Linked DNA regions of Homo sapiens. The protein of the gene in region 4 purifies or fractionates together with the protein of the main gene of each other region. This does not show direct contact. Each region holds a gene or a part of one and is shown on either strand. Other genes may lie near its edges. The genes, in order: SHMT1, MRAP2, ADPRS, FRMD6, FBN2, RGS3 and ABLIM2.

The links.
Region 1: the proteins of FRMD6 (region 4) and SHMT1 purify together in Homo sapiens (co-immunoprecipitation; one large-scale study listed by IntAct). This does not show direct contact.
Region 2: the proteins of FRMD6 (region 4) and MRAP2 purify together in Homo sapiens (co-immunoprecipitation; one large-scale study listed by IntAct). This does not show direct contact.
Region 3: the proteins of FRMD6 (region 4) and ADPRS purify together in Homo sapiens (co-immunoprecipitation; one large-scale study listed by IntAct). This does not show direct contact.
Region 5: the proteins of FRMD6 (region 4) and FBN2 purify together in Homo sapiens (co-immunoprecipitation; one large-scale study listed by IntAct). This does not show direct contact.
Region 6: the proteins of FRMD6 (region 4) and RGS3 purify together in Homo sapiens (co-immunoprecipitation; one large-scale study listed by IntAct). This does not show direct contact.
Region 7: the proteins of FRMD6 (region 4) and ABLIM2 purify together in Homo sapiens (co-immunoprecipitation; one large-scale study listed by IntAct). This does not show direct contact.

The regions. Positions count from the first base shown.
Region 1 is NC_000017.11:18,350,051-18,353,550, reverse strand, and holds part of SHMT1 (serine hydroxymethyltransferase, cytosolic), read left to right. Parts: intron 1-3,500. UniProt on the Homo sapiens protein: Interconversion of serine and glycine.
Region 2 is NC_000006.12:84,054,272-84,057,771, forward strand, and holds part of MRAP2 (melanocortin-2 receptor accessory protein 2), read left to right. Parts: intron 1-1,040; 5' UTR 1,041-1,047; coding exon 1,048-1,174; intron 1,175-3,500. UniProt on the Homo sapiens protein: Modulator of melanocortin receptor 4 (MC4R), a receptor involved in energy homeostasis. Plays a central role in the control of energy homeostasis and body weight regulation by increasing ligand-sensitivity of MC4R and MC4R-mediated generation of cAMP.
Region 3 is NC_000001.11:36,087,705-36,091,691, reverse strand, and holds the start of ADPRS (ADP-ribosylhydrolase ARH3), read right to left. Parts: upstream 2,801-3,987; 5' UTR 2,788-2,800; coding exon 2,577-2,787; intron 449-2,576; coding exon 352-448; intron 75-351; coding exon 1-74. Other genes in the region: TEKT2 (tektin-2), read right to left, coding at 3,506-3,719, 3,885-3,964. UniProt on the Homo sapiens protein: ADP-ribosylhydrolase that preferentially hydrolyzes the scissile alpha-O-linkage attached to the anomeric C1'' position of ADP-ribose and acts on different substrates, such as proteins ADP-ribosylated on serine and threonine, free poly(ADP-ribose) and O-acetyl-ADP-D-ribose.
Region 4 is NC_000014.9:51,707,410-51,710,909, forward strand, and holds part of FRMD6 (FERM domain-containing protein 6), read left to right. Parts: intron 1-668; coding exon 669-824; intron 825-3,500.
Region 5 is NC_000005.10:128,307,746-128,311,245, reverse strand, and holds part of FBN2 (fibrillin-2 precursor), read left to right. Parts: intron 1-1,137; coding exon 1,138-1,263; intron 1,264-1,846; coding exon 1,847-1,999; intron 2,000-3,500.
Region 6 is NC_000009.12:113,582,227-113,585,726, forward strand, and holds part of RGS3 (regulator of G-protein signaling 3), read left to right. Parts: exon of another isoform or gene 1-16; intron 17-1,223; coding exon 1,224-2,201; intron 2,202-3,500. UniProt on the Homo sapiens protein: Down-regulates signaling from heterotrimeric G-proteins by increasing the GTPase activity of the alpha subunits, thereby driving them into their inactive GDP-bound form.
Region 7 is NC_000004.12:8,096,314-8,099,813, reverse strand, and holds part of ABLIM2 (actin-binding LIM protein 2), read left to right. Parts: intron 1-2,531; coding exon 2,532-2,715; intron 2,716-3,500. UniProt on the Homo sapiens protein: May act as scaffold protein. May stimulate ABRA activity and ABRA-dependent SRF transcriptional activity.

The DNA.
Region 1 (3,500 bases), on a different chromosome or scaffold from region 4:
TTCCACGCCTGCTCTCTGACAGAACTCTTTTATTCCCAGCATGTGATAACACTGAAGAGCTCAGCGCAGGTGTACTCAGGGGCACATTTCACAGTTCTTTGGGGGCTTTCTAGAAAAACAGGCCAGTTTGTAAGGAGTATTGAGCCACTGGACTGGTGTGTGGCCTCTGTCTAGAAAAGGTCAGTGTCATCTGAGGGATGCTGCAGAAGGTGGCCGTTGCCATGTGAGTCATCGAGTCTGTATTGGGAATGGTGTGGAAGTGGAGGCTGAATCTGGATTACTGAAAACCGTTTCTGCATTATAAATGTTGGATTTACACATGCAGTGGCTTTCAGTTGACTCTTTCACCCTCAGAATTACAGTGTTATATTCGTTTTTGTTTTTTACAGTCATCATCAGGCAAAGAAAATAAATTACAGAATTAGACATGGCTTTTGCAAATGTGTGCATTTTTGTCCCAAAGGAAACAGAAAGGTCACCCTTGGAGAAGGAATTGCCATTCTGTCCTGAGATGCCCCTGAAGCTCTATGTAGAAGACTGAGAATCAAGTTGAAGGCATTGTCTTTCTCCTATTGTGAATAACTAACTTTTGCATTGTGCCTTAAAGAATTCACCAGGTGTTTTCTTTATTTCTCTCTCTCCTTTCTTTTTCTTTTTCCTTCCTTTCTTTCTTCTTTCAGGCTAAGGTATTTTGTTAACACCAGGTGTTTTCTTTTTTTTTTTCTTCTTTTTTGAGACATGGTCTTTCTCTCACCCAGGCTGAAGTGCAGTGGTGTGATCAAGGTTCACTGCAGCCTTGGTCTCCTGGACCCAAGCCATCCTCCCACCTCAGCCTACTGAGTCGCTGGGACTACAGGCACACACCACCACACCCAGCTAATTTTTTGTAGAGACAGAGTTTCACCCAGGCTGTTGTTGCCCAGGCTGATCTCCATCTCCTGAGCTCAAGCAATCCACCTGCCTTGGCCTCCCAGAGTGCTTAGGATTAGAGCTGTGAGCCACTGCACCCGGTCCACACCAGGTGTTTTCAAAACTAATATTTCATTCGATTCTCACAGCAATGTATCGAGCAAGGGGTGATGTTTTCTACATTTTTAAGAAGGGGGACCGGGCGCGGTGGCTCACGCCTGTAATCCCAGCACTTTGGGAGGCCCAGGCGGGCGGATCACGAGGTCAGGAGATCGAGACCATCCTGGCTAACACGGTGAAACCCCGTCTCTACTAAAAATACAAAAAATTAGCCTGGCAAGGTGGCGGGCGCCTGTAGTCCCAGCTACGTGGGAGGCTGATGCAGGAGAATGGCGTGAACCCCAGGGGGCAGAGCTTGCAGTGAGCCGAGATCGCGCCACTGCACTCTAGCCTGGGCGATAGCGAGCCTCCGTCTCAAAAAAAAAAAAAAAGAAGGGGACTGAGTGTAGTGGCTCACCCCTGTAATCCCAGTGCTTTAAGAGGCCAGGGCAGAGGATCATTTGAGGCTAGGAATTTGAGACCAGCCTGGGCAATATAGTGAGACGCTGTCTCCAAAACAAAATTTAAAAATTAGCCGGACATGGTGGCATGCGCCTGTAGTCTCAGCTACTCAAGAAACTGAGGTGGAGTATCGCTTGAGCCCAGGAGATCAAAGGCTGCAGTGAGCTATGATTTTGCCAATGCACTCCAGCTGGGGTGACAGAATGAGACCCTGTTTCTAAATTTAAAAAAAACCCCGAAAAACCACAACTTAAATAGAAGTGTAATTACATCGTTTATTCATGTTAAAGGGCTTGTTGTTTTTTTTTTACACGGAGTATCGCTCTGTCACGAGGCTGGAGTGCAGTGGCACAATCTCGGCTCACTGCAGCCTCCACCTCCCAGGTTCAAGCGATTCTCTTGCCTCAGCCTCCCAAGTAGCTGGGACTATAGGCACGTGCCACCACACCCGACTAACTTATTTATTTATTTATTTTTTGTATTTTTAGTAGAGACGGGGTTTCACCGTGTTAGCCAGGCTGGTCTCGATCTCCTGACCTCATGATCCGCCTGCCTCTGTCTCCCAAAGTGTTGGGATTACAGGCGTGAGCCACTGTGCCCAGCCAATTAAAGGGCTCTTTTAAAAGGTAATTATTGGCTGGGCGTGGTGGCTCATGCCTGTAATTCCAGCACTTTAGGAGGCCGAGCTGGGTGGATCATGAGGTCAGGAGATCGAGACCATCCTGGCTAATACGGTGTAAACCCCATCTCTACTAAAAAAAAATACAAAAAAATTAGCCAGGTGTGGTGGCTGGCGCCTGTAGTCCCAGCTACTCGGGAGGCTAAGGCAGGAGAATGGTGTGAACCTGGGAGGTGGAGTTTGCAGTGAGCCGAGATCGCGCCACTGCACTCCAGCCTGGGTGACAGTGAGATTCCGTCTCAAAAAAATAATAAAAATAAAAATAAAAGGTAATTATTACATGTTTTCATTATATTTTGTTAATATAATTTAATATTAATCTACCTTTGGAACATTATTTAAAATCAAAGGCAATATTTGAAAACAATAGGCAAGGCGTGGTGGTTCACACCTGTAATCCCAGCACTTCGGGAGGCTGAGGCAGGTGGATCACCTGAGGTCAGGAGTTTGAGACCAGCCTGGCCAACATGTCGAAACCCTGTCTCTACTAAAAATACAAAAATTAGCTGGGTGTGGAGGTGCGTGCCTGTAATCCCAGCTACTCTGGAGGCTGAGGTAGGAGAATCGCTTGAACTTGGGAGGCGGAGGTTGCAGTGAGCCGAGATCGCACCACTGCACTCCAGCCTGGGAGACAGAGCAAGACTCCATCTCAGAAAAAAAAAAAAGAAAACAGTGTTGACCTAACGTTAATGACTTTGCTTGATACAAACCTAAAAACAAAGTTCTGGGTTTAAAACAAAATGTTATGTATGTGTGAATAAATGAATGACAAGGTCTCGTTGTCTTGCCCAGGCTGGAGTGCAGTGGTGCAATCTCGTCTCATTGCAGCCTCAAACTCTTGGGCTCAAGCAATCCTCCTGCCTCAGCCTCTCTGTAGCTAGGACCACAGGTGCGTGCCACCACACCAGGCTAATTTTTAATAGACATGAGGTCTTGCTGTGTTGCCCAGGCTGGTTTCAAACTCCTGGCCTCAAGCAGTCTTCCCACCTGAGCCTTCCATATTACTAGGATTACAGGTGTGAACAACCACATCTGGCCTATTTATTTTTTATTTATTTATTTATTTATTTTGAGACGGAGTCTCACTCTGTCGCCCAGGCTGGAGCGCAGTGGCACGATCTCGGCTCACTACAAGCTCCACCTCCCGGGTTCACGCCATTCTCCTGCCTCAGCCTCCCGAGTAGCTGGGACTACAGGCGCCCGCCACCACACCCGGCTAATTTTTTATATATTTTTTAGTAGAGACGGGGTTTCACCATGTTAGCCAGGATGGTCTCCATCTCCTGACCTCGTGATCCGCCCGCCTCGGCCTCCGAAAGTGCTGGGATTACAGGCGTGAGCCACCGTGCCC
Region 2 (3,500 bases), on a different chromosome or scaffold from region 4:
GTGTCTTGCACACAGTAGGTGCTCAAACACAGTTATTGAACACAGGCTGCATTGACTTATCACCTTCGGTATCCGTGCTGCGCAGTGCAACCATCTTCTCCCAAAGAAGTCAGGATTTTTTGGTCTAAAATAGTCACAGTTAACAAAGATACTTGGGAAATCCTGAAAATATCATAAATTTCAGGAGTAAGCAGTTGGACAAGTTGTGGACTTCTGTTGAGTATCTTCTGCAAGATCCACTATGCAACTTTTGCTGCCTGTTTTTCTTTATTCACTCCATTTTATTAAACTTAGTTTCCTCCAAACCCACTGGAAGCAAGAAAAGCAAACAAACAAAACCTTAGGTTGCTCATCTCCATTGTTGCATAGTAGGTGTTGAATGGATACCTACTGAGCTAGTTCATTTCTGATACTAATTTGATTACTTCTCCTGAACATTCTTTCTTCTTACAGAACTCTCTGTCCTCTACCTCCCAAATCCCACAAAACATCTCGCCTCCACACATAGGCTGATTGCTTGGGAATGGTACAGGAGGCCCTTGGTGATTCTAATTGATGAAAGACTAAAAAATTCCCTTATAGGGGAACATAAATCAATGTCAATCTGAGATTGAGTAATACATCAAATTAGTATCAGCAATGAACTAGTTTCAGCAGGCTCTTTACATACTCTTGCAGGTATAGGTGCTGAGGCTGAAGCTGTAAGCTCAGAGATTTTGACATACTCTTTCCCTCCTTTCCTTCTTTCCTTCATCAGTTACTGAACATTTGTTATGTGCCAGGCATTGGGTTAAGTTCAAAAAAATATACAGTGTCTGATTTCAAATACATTATTCCACTCTAGTGGCAAGAGAAAAGGAAGTAGTGGCCACATGATATGAGGTGTGAGCAGCTGGTAAGAACCTCTCCTGGCCTAGGAGGTAAGACCTCCTCAAGGGGTTTGCTGCCAAACTCCTGAATGCGATCAAGAGTAATTAAGGTAACTGTGCAGCTCTGGATGAATTAACAGGTTCTGCGCTTGACTTTCTCCATTTGTGCAGGTCGGAGATGTCCGCCCAGAGGTTAATTTCTAACAGAACCTCCCAGCAATCGGCATCTAATTCTGATTACACCTGGGAATATGAATATTATGAGATTGGACCAGTTTCCTTTGAAGGACTGAAGGCTCATAAATGTAAGTTTTATACAATTCCTCATTGAAAGCATAATTGTATTTCTCTTAACCTGTGAAATCCCCAAGGATTACTTCTCCTGAGCATTCTTTCTTCTTTACAGAACTCTCTGTCCTCTACCTCCCAAATTCTACAAAACATCTCGCCTCCACACATAGGCTGATTGCTCAGGAATGGTACAGGAGGGCCTTGGTGATTCTAATTGATGAAAGACTAAAAAATTCCCATAGTAGGAGAACATGAATCAATGTCAAGCTGAGATTGAGAATTTTTAAAAAGCATTTGCTTTTTTAGCTCCTCCAAACTGTGAATGTTTGAACTATCAAAAATATGTATAAAAATAGGATCTGGAACTGTTATTTGAAGAACCTTCTTTTGTAACACAGCAGCATCTTTTCATCCCAGTTGGTTTCCTGGAGCTGTGGAGAGCAGTGTATCCATGTGTGCTCATAATGATGGACCAGAATAGCCTGCGATCATTTCTAACACTGTGTTCTAGGCATGAATTGTGTTTCATGCTATTGGAGTAATTAAGGGTCCAGCACAGAGCAAGGAAATGTAATTCTGTGAGACGTTGCTACTCAACTCCAGTCATAACTGAATGCTGACTGGCCAGCATGGAACATCCTTGCTTCATTAGGTAGAGTTAACAGTTAACATGGTAGGCAGGAACTGCTGCCCAGTCTCAGATCCTGTCTTGGTAACCCCGTAAATATCCCTGAAATGTTCACTTTTGTCAGAGTGAATTATCCACAGCACTGTAAAATTTTTATGCTCTTAACTGGTCCAGGTTAGTGGGACACATTAGGAAATATAAGAGGGCTTAGAATCAGAGAAACAAATGTAGCAAAGAAAGTGTTTTTGTTCCTTTAATTATTTCCTGGCTGCTTCTATCCTGACCTGTCTTGGCATTCATGATCTCTTGCACCAACTTGGTGCTCTTTTGCAAGAAGGGCTTTCTATTTTTGTTCCTTTAGCAAAAATCATTAATTAAACCATATGTCCTTTACCCCTTAAGTGAGTAGTAATAATTAAATACTTTCATTCATTCCTTTATTGACATCTGCTCAGTATTTCTTTGTGGAAAAAAAGCACATGGCATTTATCAAGGTATGCTGTCATTGATTATCTGAGAGAAGGCTGTTGGGTGTGAAATCACCTTCTTTAATTTACTTAAATTCTTTAATATGTTGTTTTTCTAGGATAACCTTTATGTAAGGACAATTGCTTGTTCTGAATTATAGTGGATATCAAAATGACTGGGAAAATTGCCACATATTTTCTTGAAATGTGGGCTTTTACTGCTTGGTGACATCAACTTTACTTTTGTGTCAGCTTGCTCCTATCTCTTTTCCTTAGTTTAAGAAGCACAGAAGACAGGCCTGCTGCTGTAATTTTGGTTGGTACATTTCCAGAGACAATTGAATAAAATATTTTTTGAGGATATTACATTCTAGAAATAATTATAGCTGGAAAACTTCATGAGAAACATAGGCAGAGGTGTGACTCATTCCTTACTTACTTACTTTACCTACTATACCATTAATAACAATTGCTTTTGTTAATTTTAATATTCACGTCAAGATAAAACAAAAATGCCTGAGCACTTACTGTTCTGATATAAGAGAGCTGATAAGTAGCAGCCCTTAGCTTCAGGAACCTGAAAATATATGCGACACATTGAGAACAAAAAATAAACAAACACAAAACCCCAGATATACAGGAAAGTGAAAAGATCAAGTCAACTGTTGAAATGTGTGCTCTGGTACAGTCTCTTTCATTTAAAAATGCTGTGACTCTGACCTTCAAGTATGACTCCTTGTTTTGCTGGGCAAAATTCAAAGCTAATTAGATGCAGATTCAAAAGAACAGAAGCAGGACATTTCAAGGGGAAGCACTCATTGCGGACAGGAATGACCATAACAGTTATCTTTATTTGCCTTACCTGTAATGGATCACACTTGGCAACAATAGCTCCATCTTTAGACTGAGTTCCTCTGCTGAAATTAAGATTCCTACCTTCAAAGGGTGTTTCATCTGAGAAGCAACCTCAGATGGTGCTTGAGAATTCTTTTGCCATCAGTTTTGAATCCAATATTAAACCTTATCATGTATCAGAAGTGGACATGTATCTGATACAGATTTGGCACCAACAAAGTGGAAACCTATTTATTTATTCATTCATTCAATATATATTTATTGAGCACCTGTTATGTGCAGTACTATTTTAAGCACTGGAGAGACAACAGTGAACTGAAAAGACAGAAATATTTCCTTGTATAGAGCTTGCATTCTAGTGGGAGAGACAGACAATAAATAGTTAAATAG
Region 3 (3,987 bases), on a different chromosome or scaffold from region 4:
GGAGCTTCTTGAAGACAGTGACTACTCCAGCACCATAGCCCCTGTCAGGGTCTTTCTTGTACTCCTGAGCAAATCTAGGGAACAGAAGGGGAGACAGAATTCAGATTTACAAGATGCCTCTAAGGGTTGGGAGAGAAGAAATCGAGGCTAGTTTGGAAAAAGAGAAAGCCTCGGGGGCCTAAGGAGCCTGCACCAGCAGTGCTGCTGTTTTAGCTTGGGAAGCTGTGCCAGCCTGACACAGGCTTCTGTGGAGGGTTGGGGGCGTGGACATGCACAAATGTCATTCCTCTGGTCAAGGGGTGCAATAACTTTCCCACCTGGTTTGCCTCAGCCCAGGACCATCCCCCTCACCTGTGAGCCATGTCCACCTCGTCAAAGGCCTCCTTGGCTAGCAGGGACTGCACCAGGGCCCTGGCCATGGCTGTGTCATCTGTGTAGTACAAGGCTTCTGTGGGGAGAGGAGGGAGGATGAGAGCCTCCTGCTCACCTTTGTTTTTTTTGTTGTTGTTTTTTGCTTTTTTTGGAGACAGAGTCTCGCTCTGTTGCCCAGACTGGAGTGCACTGGTGCAATCATGGCTCACTGCAGTCTTGAACTCCTGGGCTCAAGCTATCCTTCTGCCTCAGCCTCTCAAGTAGCTGGGACTATAGGCATGCATCATCACACCCAGCTACTTTTATTTTTTTGTAGAGACAGGGTCTCACTCTGTTGTCCAGACTGGTCTTGAATTCCTGGGCTCAAGCAATCCTCCTGCCTTGGCCTCCCAAAGAGCTGGGATTATAGGCCTGAGCCACTGTGCCTGGCCCTGCTCACCTTTTATTTTAGTTTATATTATTATTTTTTTGGTACAGGGTCTCACTCTGTTGCCTAAGCTGCAGTGCAGTGGTACGACCATGGCTCACTCCATCTCGACCTCCCAGGCTCAAGGAGCCTCTTGCCCCAGCCTCCCGAGTAGCTGGGACTACAGGTGCACACCACTGCGCCTGGCTTTTTTTTTTTTTTTTTTTTTTTTTTGTAGAGATGGAGTTTCATCCTGTTGCCAGGCTGGTCTCAAACTCTTGGGCTCAAGTGGACTCTCCCAAAGCGCTGGGATTACAGTTGTGGCTACGGCACCCAGCCTCTACTCATGTTTCAGAGTTACCACATCTAAAATGACCTCAAATCAGTTTCTCACTCCCATTCACTTTCGTGGGCCTGGGAAGCCTTAGGATCTCAGCAATGGGATTTTCAGCAATTCTTTATTCCAAGTCAGTCCTGCTGCTTTCTATTTTATGTATTTATTTATTATGAGCCTACATCATGGTTTGATCTTCTGATTTCTGAAAGAAAACTTCCATCCCCTTGTGGCTGCCATCCTTGCAGCTCCAGTCTTTTTGTTTTTGTTTTGTTTTTCTTTTTTATAGACAGGATCTTGCCATGTTGCCCAGGCTAGTCTCGAACTCCTGGACTTAAGCGATGATCCTTCCACCTCAGTCTCTGGAGTAGCTGGGATTATAGGTGTGCGCCACCATACCCAGATTGAAAATGATAGTTTCTGGATCCAGATCTCCTCCTACTTCACTTCTCTGGAGCACACCACCAGTGATCAGTGTCTTCATTTTGAAATTCTTTTCCTAGGTTTCGTTGATAGCCACTCCTGCTTCTCCTCCTATCAAACTGTTTCCTTCCCTAATCCCCTTCCCTCCCTCCCTCCCTCTTAATTACCGGTGTTCTCCAGGGTTCTGACCATGGCCCTTTCTTCTTACTATGCTACCTGCTCTCCAAGAAGATTCACCTCCTCTGCTTGACCTCACACCTGCTACCTGAGCCGGGATCTGAGCCCACAAGGGAAGGGAAGTTAGTTTTACAGGCGAGACAGCGCATGCAAACGCCTGGCCTAGAGGAATCATGGTGTGAGGAACCGAAGAGCAGAAAGCAAGGCCAAGGCTGGCGGAAAACGAAACTGCAGACGTGTGGGAGGGCCGGACCACGTCGGACACGTTAAGGAATGTGGCTCTGTACTAAGGGTAATGGGAAATCACAGCAGGGTTTTAGGCAGGGGAGGACGCGATTAGAGTCAGGCTTCCAAAGCACGCCTTGCGGGGTGGAGAACGGGCTGGTGGTATACTGACTCTAGAGAACCGGGAAAAAGAGGTCAAGTCGGCAAGGGTGGACAGACAGTCCCCGACTTAGGATGGTTCAACTTAAGTTTTTTTCGGCTTTCTGATAACGCTGATACGCATTCATAGGCTCCTCGACGTCCGATGGGGCTGCGTCCAGATAAAACGGTCGTCTAAGCTGAAAGCGCACTTTCCACTTCAGGTATTTTCAACTTACGATGGGTTTATCCACACCCTGCACGGTTGAGGCCCCGGTGCTGCCACGCCCCGAGCACGGGATGTTCGGGGCGAGACGTCTATAAGGCCGGAGATCGCACTGGCACTCGCTGAGCTCAAGCTGTCTGCGGGTCATCCGGCTCTGGCCCCGGTGCCCTCGGCAGCCTCATCCCCGCGCACCCCCGACCCGTCGCCCCCGGAGGCTCCGCGCCCCTTCGGCCTCCCTCCCGCACGGCCTCTGACTTGCGCCCGGCCCCGCCCACCTGTCCGCTCACTCCCGGGCGTGCCGGGGTCCGGCTCCAGACTCTGGACATGACGCAGGACTGACGTCAGGTCGACGGTGTCGTGGGCCTCGTAGAAGGAGCCCACGCAGTCCCCGAGCAGCGCGCCAGCCAGGCAGCCTCGGAAGCGCGAGAGGGAGCGGGCCGCGCCAGCCCCTCCACCTGCCGCTGCCGCCATCGCCGCTGCGGCCATCCGCGCGCAGACTGCTCGCCACTTCCGGTGCCGCCCTCACAGTTTCCCTACTTCCGTCCGCAGCGCTCCCTGGGGCCTAGAGTTTCCACTCCGCCGCCAGGCCCACAGCGCCGCCCAGCGGCCCGGAGTCGCGGCGCCGCGCACTTCCCGCCAGCCTGTGCTTTGAGTCTCGGTTTTCCGCTCCTCACCACTGGGCTAACTGGGTGGGAAGGCCACTATGGGGTCTCCGGGGGATGGGCACTGAGCCAGACCATTGGATCACTGCAGCCCACACTGCCTTCCGCAGGCGAGCAACCCTAACTCCGCACCCCCAGCCGGCCCTCCCCACCGAGGCCGGGACCACCCCCAAGCCCTCCCACCGGGCCCTTGCCCCCTGTGGGCCTCCCTTAAGCATCAGGAGGGCGGACCAGGGGCCAACTGGGACACAGCCAGGTAGAGGCCGCGCTGCTGCAGCCCAGGAGTGCTGACCCAGCCCAGAGAGGGGTGCCCTGAGGGGAGGGAAAGAACTGGATTTGGTACATGGAGTTCGGAGGAATAGTGTTCCCCATCTTTGCTCCTCCATAGACAGGAGGGTGTTCAAGAACCCTCTCCCTGCTGGCTACATACAGTGGGGCAGAGAACAGCCGGCCTGAGATCCTCTGCATTTATTCCATTCATTTCTCTCCTCCCTCCTTCCATTGCCCACCCAACCCTGCCCTCCTCCTGCAGTCCTCCAAGGCTAGGCCAGCTCCAGCTGGCAGCTTTTGAGTGGACTCAGGGTGCTATTTGTGGTACGTGTGAAGGTGTCCACCTCAGGCACGAACCTCTCAGCAGGCACGGTCAGCTTGCGCCGTGTGTCCATGCACTTGGTGTCCAGCAGCATGGAGTTGGCCTTGCAGGCAATGTCAGCCTGCAGCCGGGCCAGGTGCTTGCACAGGGCGTCCAGTGCGTCCCTAGGGAAGGACATTGACAACCCCCCAGCCCCCATGAGGCTGGGAGGCCTGGGCTGCGTGCATAGCCTTCAGTCAGGAAGACAGCCCCAGGGAGCCAGCAGCCAGCAAGAGGCCCCATTTGTGGGCAGCGTCTCACTGCTCCTTCCGCCCACTCCCGAGACCTACTGTGCTTGCGCCAGCTTCTGCTTCAGGGCAGCGATGGTTGCCTCTAGCTGGTGAACCTCGTCGGTGAGGCCGTACTGTGCCTGGAGGCAGAGGGGTTGGGAGT
Region 4 (3,500 bases):
TCAACACCTTTCTCTTAGCCTGCAGCTGCTGGATACTATATATTTGACATCTGAAAGCCCAGAGTACTGTCTGATGAAAATCTAAGTCACAGTGAATCACAATGAGTGTTTGAATGAAACGGTTTTCTCATAAGTATTCCAGCAGTGTTCATATCAGCCTCTTATGCAAGAACCAAAAATGTTTTAGAGAATTTCTCCCAGTACCCTGCCTTCTTTTGATTAACATTTAGAACCTCCCAGTCTGTGGCTGAAATTTTCTTAAGAGTTAGGTAGGATCCAGAACCTGAAGATGTGCCTACTATAGATGTATTTCATGGTACCAAGTATAAACTTGCAAGTATAAACAATTATGTGTACAAAATTATGAAAGTTTGTGTAGTGTTTTTCTCTTGGTGACTTTAAAGCAAAGATAACTTATTTTTCCTATTTGTTGTGATTTTTCTTCTTAGGTATTCAGCAGTACAACTAAATTGACTCTATAGCTTCTAGTATTAGCTGATTTAGCCTAGTAACATAACAGATGGTGAAAACAGAATGAATTTTCAATGCAAACCAACCAGTTTACATGGCCTATTTTAGCTTCTCATTCTTTCATCATTTTGGGGGTGGGGGTAGAACTTACATCTCTCCAACAAATGTTGCATTGCACACCCCTTGTATCCCAACAGGTTGTTTCCAAGAGGGGGAAGGACTACATCCTGAAGCACATTCCAAACATGCACAAAGATCAGTTTGCACTAACAGCTTCCGAAGCTCATCTTAAATATATCAAAGAGGCTGTCCGACTGGATGACGTCGCTGTTCATTACTACAGATTGTATAAGGTATGAAACGGCAACTAAGTCTTCAGCTTCTGAGAAAAAAACATCTTCTCAATAGGATTGAGAAGGAAAACCGAAGGATTTCATTTCCATTAAAACTTATTTCATTTTTTACATGCTTTTAAAAGAGTTTCATTGAACTGCTTTTTGTTATCGCACGTCAGTCTTGGAGGCCATGGTGCTTTTACTCTGGCCTGGAAGCGGGGTGGAGTATTTTTTAATGGTTCTAATAGTGAGATGACAATTGGCTATAAGATGTTAATCTGACTTTTTTAGTGATTATGGCATTGTTATTTCTCTCCTCCCCAAATCTGCTTTTCTGCTTTGGGGAATAGCATTTGCAACTTCTTTGATAAGTAATTTTTAATATTCCTCAAAGTGAAGCTATACCTGCGTTGTATCCGTCAGTTACAAGAACATTACCACAACAGGTAATGTTTATGGAGTCCTGTGTTTACTGGGCACACTTTATATGTGTTTTTTTTAATCCTCATAACTTTATATGAAAGGTACTTTAATCTTTATTTTACAGTCCAGGAAACTGAGGCTTAAAGAGATTAAATGAATCACCTAAGATCACAAAACTAAATGGCAAAGCCAGGATTTAGTCAAGGCCTTCTTGATAACATAGGCTGTGAGCCTAAGGCACTGTATTCCACACGTTCCTCACTCTCGGAAGTTACTCTCCTTTGTGTCCCGTGTATCTCTAGCCTCGTTTTTCCTTTCTGGGGCAGAGGTCACACACCCAAATAACAACTGGGGCCATGCTCTGCAGGGAATCACTCACAGTACTCTATATCATCTTGTCTTCTCTTCCCCTCCTCCTCCTAACCCCTTTCACTATTCCATAAGTGCCACTTTGTTGGCAAGAACTCCTGAATACCCACTTAAGTATTCAAAGGTGTATTCTCAAACCAAATGGATGAAGTGGTTAAGAGCACTGTAAGTTGAGCCTAACTGCCTAGGATTGAATCTCAGTTTGGCCTCTTACTATGTGACCTCAGGCAAGTTACTTACTTAACCGCTCTGTACTTCAGTTTCCCCATAGTTAAAGGGGACAGCAACATACCTGCTTTTTAGGATTGCTGAATACTAAAGGAATTGTTGGATGAAAAACTGCTTAAAACAGTGCCCAGCACATGTTAAGCATGATGTTAAGTTGGCTGCTGTTACCATTACCATTGATAGTATTATGCTTGTTATCTCTACTTTGCCTTTTGTGGTAGGATTAGCATAGCTAGACCATTGGAAACTGGGCTTTAGTTTGGATGTATTGCTCAGTAATCTTGTTAGCTGGTTCAGAAAACTTAAGGGACCAACTGATGTTTTTTCTATCTCTCTTCTATGCCCAAGAGATGCATTATTAATGCCCCATCTTCCTTGAAAGGCATAATTGAGTTCCATAAGATCTGTTTGGCTAAATTCCTAAAGGACTGAGTTGTAATTTTTTTTTAGCCTGAAGAGATTTTATTTGTGACACCTCAATTGACACAAGAAAATGCAAATAAATGACAGTTTTGATAATTAGTTTATATTTTAAAATGTATTAGAAGTATGAATGATATGTTGGAAAGAGTAAGAGTGTGGCTTTGGAATCAGATGTCAATTAGAAACCCTATGTCACTACTCGCTATAGCTGGGATCCTAGGCAACTATAATCCTGAGCTGTCTATTAAGTGGGGATGATACAATATGCTTCACAAGGTTGGGAGGCTTTGGTGAGATAATGAATCTGAAATAATGAGGTGGAATACCTGGCACATTAGTGAGTGCTCAATAACCATTAATTGCTTTTTGCCTTATTTGCTGGGGAAGCTTGCTATTTTAAAGAATCCTATTAAGAAATAAGAATCTTTTGTTGAAGTAGATATCCCCAATTTATCTTCTGTGTAAAACTTAATTTTCAAGTTTACTTAAAGTATGGCGCTTCTGAATTGCATAGAAAATGACTCTTATCTGCTAAAAAGATTTTTAGTAAAAATGTAACATAATGAAGTGGGGGAAAAGATATTGGCTGATTCACAGTTTTTATTCTTTGGAGAAATTCAGCGGCAGCCATTAAATCTGCTTCATTTAGGAGCTGCTCATAAACGGGAAATAAGGTAGACAAAGGACAAGGGAACATTCTGGAAAAAAAACCCGTTTTGTGCCCCTTTCCCACCAATATATACCGTATACTTGAAAACCAGCATTTTTATGAGCATAGCCTTATTTTGGAAAGCAATCTGTACATCCTTGAAAGCGAAATTGACCAAAACTCATATAATGATGGATTAGTTTCTCCTCTTAAAGCTTATGCTATATGTGTTTTTCTTGATGTAAAAATATACTAGTTGGAAAGAAACAGCCTAAATAGTAGAAATAGGCTGTGTCTTATATTTATAATGCCAGGTGAGGACACATGTTTTAAAAATATTTCATCCCATGTTCATGGGAAAGCTGGCACTAAGCTTAAAAAGATCTCTGCATACTCATTGTGTTTATTGGGAAATCTCATAATGAAAATATTTACTTAGTAATTTCATTTCTATTTTGAACTTTATACACTATATATACTTATTACAGATGAGCACTTAAAGGATGTGGCTGAATTTTAAAGTGAATTTTTAATTGTGGAGGTTTTTTTTTCCCCTTATGCTCATTGTAGTTTATTTTCTACAGTTTATGGTTTAGCTGGTA
Region 5 (3,500 bases), on a different chromosome or scaffold from region 4:
CTGAGGCCTGAGGGAAAGGCCCATCCTCACATTCTACAAAAGGCTCAATTAAGATTGGTTCATAGCTTTTTTTTTTTTCATATCAATGTAGCTAAGTTGTATGATGATAGACAAATTAATTTATGGCTCGTTGCCATAATTCACTGTATTTTTCCAGGAGGGTTGATTAAATATAAATTGGGAAAATGGGGTAGTGTGAAAACCTAAAATATTAAGTAAGTTATTAGTGAAAATATTGATAAGAATTACATTTTACATAGGAAAAATTGGTAAGCTAAAATGTGACCATTAACTTAATATTGATCAGTAATTTTTAAATGTTGGACTATATGGTATGAAGAAGTTCAAAGGTTATGCAGCTGCCATTCTTGCTTCCATCCCCCCACTTGATCACATGGTATTTCAATTCTTTTAGGGGCCTGTCTCACCACTAAACTGGGGGCTTCTGGAGACAAGGTCCACATCTTACTCATCATTACAGCCATAAGTTCTAGCTTACAGTAGAATCTCAATATTTTAATTGTGAAATGAGTGAATGCTTCTAACTGAACATTAAACATGTAGCGTAATTATTTCCATTATAACTTTTCTTTTGGAACATGTTTGATAAATGTATCTGGAAGAAATAGGATGTAATGAGGAGAACAACCAGCAGCTGCACTGCTTTAAGAATCTCTGAATAGTTACTAATTTGAAAGAAGCTACAAAGACAAAGGCTTTCCCAACCTGCATTCACTTTAAAGTTGGCATTAAAACTTAGCCTAAGTGACATAGGACAAAAGCAGGCTTTAAAGAAATTCCAATTGAAGAATGCGAATTGCAATAAAAAAAAAAAAAAAAAAATATATATATATATATATATATATATATATATATATATGTGCCAAGGAAATTATTTTTTGCCACTTTAGAATAATTTCTTTTGATGCTTTATATTTTTTAATATGGGGATTTTTTTCTTTTGAAGAAAGATGTATCTGTGTTATATAAATGCATATTTGGGATATTTTCTTTATTTCTAAGTTTTGCATAAATGGGGATTTAGAGAATCACCTATGCTTTGTTCAGTCATCTAAGTAATATAAATTCATTGAAAAAATAGATTTATTAATTAATAGATATTCTTGCCTACTCTAGATATTGATGAGTGTTTTGCACATCCTGGTGTGTGTGGGCCTGGGACCTGCTATAACACCCTGGGAAATTACACCTGCATTTGCCCACCTGAGTACATGCAGGTCAATGGAGGCCACAACTGCATGGGTAGGTAAAGAACTCTGAGATTAATTAGAGCACAGTTGTTGACTTCACACATAAAGCACTTACGTCTCAGAATTATTGTTTGGAAGTTTGGAAGTTCAGTCTTCGTGAATTGAGATATTTCAGAGTCTTGCAAGCTGCTGGCTTAGTATCAAGTTTTTGACCTTTGGGTATACATTTAAATTTTTAAAAGCATGAGTCTAATGTAGAAAATTTCCTCAAATGTTATATATTCTTAAATTTTTCATCTCCATTCATATAGTGTGAACATTAATTTACAAATAAAAGAACATTTAAATTTTAATGCTTTATTTTTTTAATTAAATAAATGATTTTGAGAGAAAAACAAATATGTATTAACATTGTCTCCCAAGAAAATTATAAGTGAAAACCTTTAAGGATAAAGGAGAGATGTTAATCTAAAAATGATTTATGTTTAAGGAGTTATTTTAAGATAGCTTCAAATGACTAAAAAGGGTTTCCGAGTTGTGTTCATCAGGAAAGCTTGATGTCTACAGCTGTGTGGGCTTCATTATAAACTACTCGTGGATACAAATGGCTAGTTTCTTTGTTTTTCTTTATATAGACATGAGAAAAAGCTTTTGCTACCGAAGCTATAATGGAACCACTTGTGAGAATGAGTTGCCTTTCAATGTGACAAAAAGGATGTGCTGCTGCACATATAATGTGGGCAAAGCCTGGAACAAACCTTGTGAACCATGCCCAACTCCAGGAACAGGTAAGCACACGGCTCGTGCATCTGCTGACTGCCACATCAGTGATACACGCATATATCTAACAGTATAGTCAAAGTCACTGCATGCTAAAACTAGAGATGCTCAGTTCCAAAAATTCCCAAGAGCATCATATGGTTCTGTTTCCCAAGTGATCCTCTTTGGGATTCAAACACTAACTTCTGAGACATTATGTTGGATAGGCTTGTGAATCCTGAAAATAAGATCCATTGCTGAAGAGTTAGAGTTGATAGCATTAGTCCATTTAAACTCATTATCTTAAACTGTGCTTGTCAATTATTGATTTATTCATCAAACAAATATTTCTTGAGTAACTACTGTATGTCACTGTGCTAGACATGGAAAGTATAATATTTGGAGAAAAACTAAATTCAATAAGGATTTTTTTTTAGTTCAGCCGTGGAAAATATGCAAAAAGTGTTTTTTATGAGCGAATTTTACATAAAAGCAACCCATTGTCATAATGTGCCTTTTACATCTTCTTCCTCAGACATCAGTGAAATTTTTAGGCAAAAAATAGAGCTTGTCTTCACTTGGTCATGTTTTTTTCACAAGACAGTTTCTTTTGAAAGAAAAAATGAAAGATAATAGAGATAAGAGCAAAAATGCTTGTCTTAAAATTGCTGTCCATCAGGCTCTCTTTTATGACCTGGAGAATGGCAACTTTTAATAACTATAGATACTAAGAGTTGAACCAGTAGGCCAAATAAGAAACAGTGATTATGCATTTGTTACCAAATATTACTTAGGGTATATGTATTTAAATGTTCCATTTAATGTATTGATGAAATTAAGGAGAGAAATGATGAAAAGCAACACATAGGCCTTTTTCAGTGGCTCCAATTCACTGGTCAAATGGATTTTCTTAGCCTTATCTTGCCATTATTATGTTCCATAAAATTAAATAGAAACATTCCTACAATTCTCAACTTTAAAACTCCATAGTTACAAATTTAAGATCATTGATTTGGGGAATTAAAATGGCACTTTCTTTGTGAGAAGAAGCGAAAGGCTTGGAGTTGAGAGACGTGTCTGTATTTAAATCAAAACTCTTAAGATACTTATTGTGGAACCTCCTGCAGAGTATGTATCCTTTCTGAAACTAATTTCTCATGTATAAAATAGGAATAATAAATAATTACAGTGACTAATTCATATGGGTGCAATGACAATTAGGGAGATTATACATATAAATTATAATTTGAAGATTTCCAGACAATTAGAAACCATTAAGTTGAGCATCTGTGGTCTTTCTATCTGTTCTCAATACTCGGTATATATTGATGGATGAAATATACAATATCCCTGACCTGATAGCACTTGGAATATAGTATGCAGTTTAAGTTTTATATAATACTGTTTTCAGGAGTTTTACTCACTTGTATAGCAGTGAGCGTCAGAAGCATTTTTCATCTTGCAAATTAGAATTCTTTTAAATTTCCATTGATTTGGTTAATTATGTGTAAGAATACTTCTTATAGTCCC
Region 6 (3,500 bases), on a different chromosome or scaffold from region 4:
AGCTGTACAATAGTGGGTAAGTCACCGGCCTTTGGGCTCAGTTTTCTCATCCATCAAATGGACATTAATGATTTCTACAATGAGAGCTCTTAACCCATGTTCTGGGGGTACTTACCCCTGAAGTTTTCTGCCAGTGTGCGCGTGTGCCCGCAGGTGCACACATTCCCAAGCATCTGTTCAGTTCCCGAGTATGGGTGAGGTCTTTCCCTTTCATTAGTTCTCAGCAGCTATGGCTTCTTGAAGACAGAACCTGGGCTCTAAATAAATAGTTCCAGCTCCGGCATTCCTGGTCCTTGACTGGGAGGGGCCCACCCCAGACTTGAGAACTGCCTCCCTGTGTGGTTGTGGCACCATGGACACTCCTGACTTTCTCGGGGCCCCAATCTTCTGGTGACATAGCTGCTATTCAGACTTTCATTAAGAGAAATGTTTTTCTCTTTGCACATGAAATCTACTGTCGAAACTCAGCAAAACCCCCTAGGATCCCGAGGGTTGTGTGTGAGGCAGGAGATGCTGTGTTTTTTGAGGAATCCCTGAGCTTCCTCCAAGCAGTTTAAAAATCCCTGGGTGGGTGATTCTTCAGGGAGGTTCCGTGTGTCTGCGACATCTGGTGAGTCCAGGTGTGGACAATATTTTAAAGTTCCGGTTTCATTCCAGTTTAATAGTTTCAAAAAGATACTTAAGCGTTCAGAGCACATTCTTGTTTGAATGACTCATTAGGATTTTTTAAACTTGAGTTCAGGTAGAAGACACCCTGGGCTGGGTTCAGTGACTGCCCTGGCTTGGTTCTGGTCCATAAGCAGAGACTGCCTGGTTCTCCTTTATCCCCAGAGGCAACTTTGACCCTGTTTCCTTTTCTGTAAAATGGGGACAGTGATGCTTCTTTTATAGGGTTGTCGGGAAGGCCACATAAGAGAGTGGGGTCAAGCTGGCCTGGCACCTGCCAAAGCAGGAGCTAGATAGATAGTGGTTATCTCTCCCTCTTCTCCTATAAATGACCAGCTGTGTTTTTGATGGAGCAGAAAGTTCAAGCAAGAAGACAGGGTGAGAATTGTTACCCAGCTAAGTCAAAGGGGCTTTGGGGGTTCCATCTGGCACCTCAGCTTTCAGACTGGGGGCCCGGGGTTCAGGCCACTGCCTGATTTCATGTCAGCTCATGCATGGTGTCTGGCATCTTGGAGCCTCCTCTTCTGAACTGTTCTTGTTTTCTTTTTGTTTCCCAGATGTTTGAGACGGAGGCAGATGAGAAGAGGGAGATGGCCTTGGAGGAAGGGAAGGGGCCTGGTGCCGAGGATTCCCCACCCAGCAAGGAGCCCTCTCCTGGCCAGGAGCTTCCTCCAGGACAAGACCTTCCACCCAACAAGGACTCCCCTTCTGGGCAGGAACCCGCTCCCAGCCAAGAACCACTGTCCAGCAAAGACTCAGCTACCTCTGAAGGATCCCCTCCAGGCCCAGATGCTCCGCCCAGCAAGGATGTGCCACCATGCCAGGAACCCCCTCCAGCCCAAGACCTCTCACCCTGCCAGGACCTACCTGCTGGTCAAGAACCCCTGCCTCACCAGGACCCTCTACTCACCAAAGACCTCCCTGCCATCCAGGAATCCCCCACCCGGGACCTTCCACCCTGTCAAGATCTGCCTCCTAGCCAGGTCTCCCTGCCAGCCAAGGCCCTTACTGAGGACACCATGAGCTCCGGGGACCTACTAGCAGCTACTGGGGACCCACCTGCGGCCCCCAGGCCAGCCTTCGTGATCCCTGAGGTCCGGCTGGATAGCACCTACAGCCAGAAGGCAGGGGCAGAGCAGGGCTGCTCGGGAGATGAGGAGGATGCAGAAGAGGCCGAGGAGGTGGAGGAGGGGGAGGAAGGGGAGGAGGACGAGGATGAGGACACCAGCGATGACAACTACGGAGAGCGCAGTGAGGCCAAGCGCAGCAGCATGATCGAGACGGGCCAGGGGGCTGAGGGTGGCCTCTCACTGCGTGTGCAGAACTCGCTGCGGCGCCGGACGCACAGCGAGGGCAGCCTGCTGCAGGAGCCCCGAGGGCCCTGCTTTGCCTCCGACACCACCTTGCACTGCTCAGACGGTGAGGGCGCCGCCTCCACCTGGGGCATGCCTTCGCCCAGCACCCTCAAGAAAGAGCTGGGCCGCAATGGTGGCTCCATGCACCACCTTTCCCTCTTCTTCACAGGACACAGGAAGGTGAGAAAGCTAAAGGGGGAGGGAGAAGGATACATGCAATGTGGGGAGGGCTGGCCCAGGGGCTGCAGGGAATGAGAAGTCACCATGTTCCACCCCCACTATCCTGGCAGCCTCCCAGCGAACTTTCCACCTGTTGGACAGAAGATAAAACTGAGGCCCAATGGGACCAAGAAGGCAGAGCATGGACTTAAACACATGACTTTAGGATTCCAGATGCTGTGTTCTTATAGCTCCACTGGTCCCCACAGAAAGCAGAGCAGGTGTAGCTTAGCCCAGGCCATTGTGTATTTGGATTTAAAAGATCTGAGATAGTAGCTGGAGAAATAGAGTTACAGCCTAGCCAGACTAGAAATCCATCAGCCAGTCACAATGACAACACACATTTATTCCGTGTCCACATTATCCTAAGCAGTTTACATTAACTCATTAACTCTCACAACAGCCCTTTGAAGTAGATAGTATTTTTGTGCCCATTTTACAGCAGAGGAAACCGAGGCAAAGAGAGGTTATCTAACTTGCTCCAGGTTACACAGTGTATCAGTGTCTGAACTAGAATTAGAATCTGGTTCCAGGGCCAGTGCTCTTAACCAACCACCACACCGTTTGCCTCTCGTGAATATTTATATGTAGATGAATAAGTATTTATGGATTTCCTGCTGTGTACCAGGCCCTGCGCTCTGCAACATGGCAGGAGCCACAGAAGTGTGTGAGGCTGGTCTCAACCTGAGAGAAATAAGTTAACTGTGTGAGCCTTGAAAGTGGCCTAACAGTGAACAGATTGCGCCATGATCTTGAAGCCTACCAGCTAGTTTGGGTCTGGGCTCTGTTTCTTACTATGTGGCTTTGGTTGAGTCACTCAACTCCTCTGAGCCATAGTTTTCTTCTCTGAAAAGTAGGGGTTAATAGCACTCACATCCCAGAATGGTTGAGGATGAATGGAAGAGGCTGGTGCCTGATAACACTAGCCGCTTGAGAGGCGGCCCTCAGGGAATGCTGGGCCCCACTCCTTCTCTTGAAATGCAACAGCCAGTGCAAGGTGTTGGTGTGAGGCTAGGTGAGTAGGGGTGCTCAGTGCCCATGGAGCACAACTGACTCAGAGATCTAGAACTTCAGGAGGACAGACCCCAGGGCCTAAAGCCATCAGGGAAAGCTTCTGGAGGAAGATACCTCTCAGCTTGGCCTTGAAGGATGAACAGGATTAGAATAAACAGAGAGGTAGAGGCAAGCATTCTTTGGCTAGAGCAGAGCATTCCTAAAGGGCAGATGCCTGGCACAGGTGCTGCTATTCCTCCCTCCAAC
Region 7 (3,500 bases), on a different chromosome or scaffold from region 4:
GAGTGCAGTGGCGCGATCTCGGATCACTGCAAGCTCCGCCTCCCAGGTTCATGCCATCCTCCTGCCTCAGCCTCCCGAGTAGCCAGGACTACAGGCGCCCGCCACCACGCCCGGATAATTTTTTGTATTTTTAGTAGAGACGGGGTTTCACCATGTTAGCCAGGATGGTCTCGATCTCCTGACCTCGTGATCTGCCTGCCTCAGCCTCCCAAAGTGTTGGGATTACGGGTGTGAGCCACCGTGCCCAGTCAGAGGTCTGGGTTTTAACCACCTTGTGGTGACCTTGGCATACTCAGGACAGCTAGAATCTGACCAGCAACCTCCCAGATAACGGCTGGGGCTGGACATGCTCACTTGCCTGGTGCTCCCGGGAGTGGACTCACAGCACTGGAGTGGGGCACCAGAACCACTGCCACATGTTTCTCCTTCAAGGAACAGCTCACGCCGTCACGTCTTTAAGAAGAATAGAGAAATACAGAAATGCCAGAGCCATGAGTGCTGTGAGCCCAGTCACCATCCAGCTACTGTCTTGGGGCAGGTGGCGCTGACATCAGAATACTATAATGCTCCAAAGTGAGGCCCCCAAGTCTCTGCTTCTCCCCAGTTGGGATGTATTTGCTTGGTCTACGCTATGGTGCAAGATCGGACAAAGCATTTTCATCCTCAGCCCAGGTTTCCTTCTGGATTTTCATGAGCCAGAGCATGGAGTGCAGAGCAAGGGCACCCTGGCCCAGGGCTGAGGCCCACCTGTCTGGAGCTTCCCTTTGATGCTGGGAGTCCTTGGCTGTTTCTCATAAACGCCCCGGAACGCCCAGGAGGAGCGAGTGCAGGCATCTTATACCATGCCCTCATCCCTCCCAGACCATCTAGATGGGATTTCGTTCTGAGTTTTCATTTTTACCTTGAGACAGAATTCAGAATCAGCATCTCTGGCCTTGGGCCTCTTAGGAGCAGCCATTAGAGCAGCAGCCAGGGCCTCGACACTGAGCCAGGCAGGACTCAGGTCTCACATCGCACTGGCTCACGGGATGCTCATCTGTGCTGCCGTGTACCCCTCTGAAGTAGGTTCTGTGTGCTAGATGAGGACAAGGAGGCCCAGAGAGGTTAAGGAACTTGCCCAGGGACACACAGCACACTACGCGGGTAGAGCTGGGATTCGAATCCCGGCAGCTCCGGCATCTGGAATCTAAGCTGCTCGGTTGACGTCTCACCATATCAGAAGAGCTAACATCTCTTTGGAGAAATGGAGACAAGTAAACCCTGGAATGTAGGCGTTCCAGCCACTCTGGTGCTTCCAGCCAGTTTGTTCCCAGAGCTCTGTTGGGGGTTTTGTAGGCAAATGTTGAGGGTCTTGCTTTGGCCTCGATATCCCACTGGATGCCCTCAAAGGAATGATGTAACAGTTAACTTTAAAGGTGCCCATATTCACAATGTGCAGAAACGACGTCCTTTGCAAGCAATTAACATTGTGATGAAAACTTTTAGATGTCAGGTTTAAAATGTATGAGGGCTACATGGTTTCTCAAAGCCCTTCCTTGGTGGCTGTAAGCTGCATTGACCCAGCAGGCAGGACCCAGGACTGACCAGGCCAGAGGGGCTGGGGCTGCAGGGGGTTCCTCTGTGACTCTAGCAGGGAGGGCCTGGGCCAGCTGGGTCAGGGGAGGCTGTGGGCTGCTCCCTCTGAAACCATGCATGGCCTGGGCACTGGAGGGGAAGCTTGTGGGAGGAATGCGATCGGGTCTCAGGACATGGACTGGGGGCCTCTGAGCTGGTGGTGACCAGCAAGTTGTCCTGAGGGCGAGTGTTCCCTTCCCTACCTGGCAGAGATCCCTCAGCCCTCCATGGAGCTCCAGGGCTTCAGCTTCCTGGGCCGGGTGTGTGTTGGGAAAAGAGACAAAGTGCTTCCCTTTCAGGAGTCCACAGGCTCTCTCCTCCTGCAGGTCTGGCCTTGTTCACACTGTGGGGAGACAGGCGTCGAGGGCCATGAGGGCATGGAGACCCAGAGGAGTGGGGGAGGGGGTGGGAAGCCTAGAGGTGGGCTGGAGGCACCGACCACAAGGACCTGGTCTGTCCTCCTGGGAACCTTCGGCCCCCAGCACAGAGTCTAGCACACAGTAGGTGATCAGGCATTAGCCCCTTCCTGATCTGTATGCCCAGTGCTGGAAACAGCCCACTGGAGGACAGCAGGGGCTCAGGGACCATCCCTGGCGGGGTCACAGAGGCTGGGGGCACTCTAGCGAGGGTGGGAGGCTGGGCAGCCCCTCAAGAGAGCCTGGCTCTTGTCCCGGTCAGTGCCCTTTCCCAAGCTTCTGTAAGGAAAGTCCACTCACCACCAGGCCAGGGGCCAGAGCTGGAGTCTGTCCCAGGAGCCCGGCCCGCCGAGAGTTGAGCAAGCCACCCCAAGTGTGTGCCGAGGCCTCAGTGCCTGTGTCAGGTGGTGGTGTGTGTGTGGAGGGGGGTGCACCTCGGGCCTGGGGGACGTGGAGATGGTCCCCTCTGCCGCTAACGCCACCTCGCCCGTCCTCCCCCAGCATGTGGCTGCGACCTGGCCGAGGGCGGCTTCTTCGTGCGGCAGGGCGAGTACATCTGCACGCTGGACTACCAGAGGCTCTACGGCACCCGCTGCTTCAGCTGCGACCAGTTCATTGAGGGTGAGGTGGTGTCGGCGCTGGGCAAGACCTACCACCCCGACTGCTTCGTGTGTGCCGTCTGCCGGTGAGTAAGTGGGCACCTGGCCTCTGCTTCCCCTGCCTCTCTGGGCCTTTTCTCCTTCCCTCCCTCCCTTCCCTTCTTCCTCCTGCTCCCTCCCGTGACCCGCCCTCTGCATCCTGCAGCGAGGCTGTTCCAGGCCCCACAGTCTGCACCCTTCTGTCTTGGTGCATACAGAGGCCTCCTCACAGGGAGCTCCGTGAGGGCAGGGGTGGGCTGCCCCGCTTTGGGTCTGGTGCATGGCACAGAGCAAGCATGCAGCAAGTGCTGGCTGCGGAGACTGGGTCCTCATCCCGGCAACAGGACTGCACCGGCCCCGCTCCGCCTGCACCTCCTGGGGCTGAGCAGGAGCCTTCCTACGTGGTCCCTGCCTCCCCCTTCCCTCCCCAGCCCCTGACTCGTTCCTCCCAGAGGAAATGTTCTGTTTCTAGAAAACAAAGAAGAGAAACATGAAAAACAGTTTGTTTTCTGTTCTGTACTCCCTGTCTCACCACACCGTGTTTGCAGGGGACGTTTTCAATGTTGTTTCCAAAGCAGTTCCCTGTGGTTACAGCGTGTGCCGGAGACAGAAATGGAACCTTCGTCAGAGGATGCTAAGGACAGGAGGTGACGATGACAAGGAGTATGTCTAGGGAGAGTCGCTCTGTGTCATCGTAGCGTGACCTGAGTCAGACCTCTCTCTCCCAGGGATTATCCGAGTGTTTGATTTTTGTGTACGTGGCTTAGAGATGAGGGTTGACATCTCACAGTTGGTTTGAAAGATCGCCTCTGGTTAATCCATTATTTTAAAA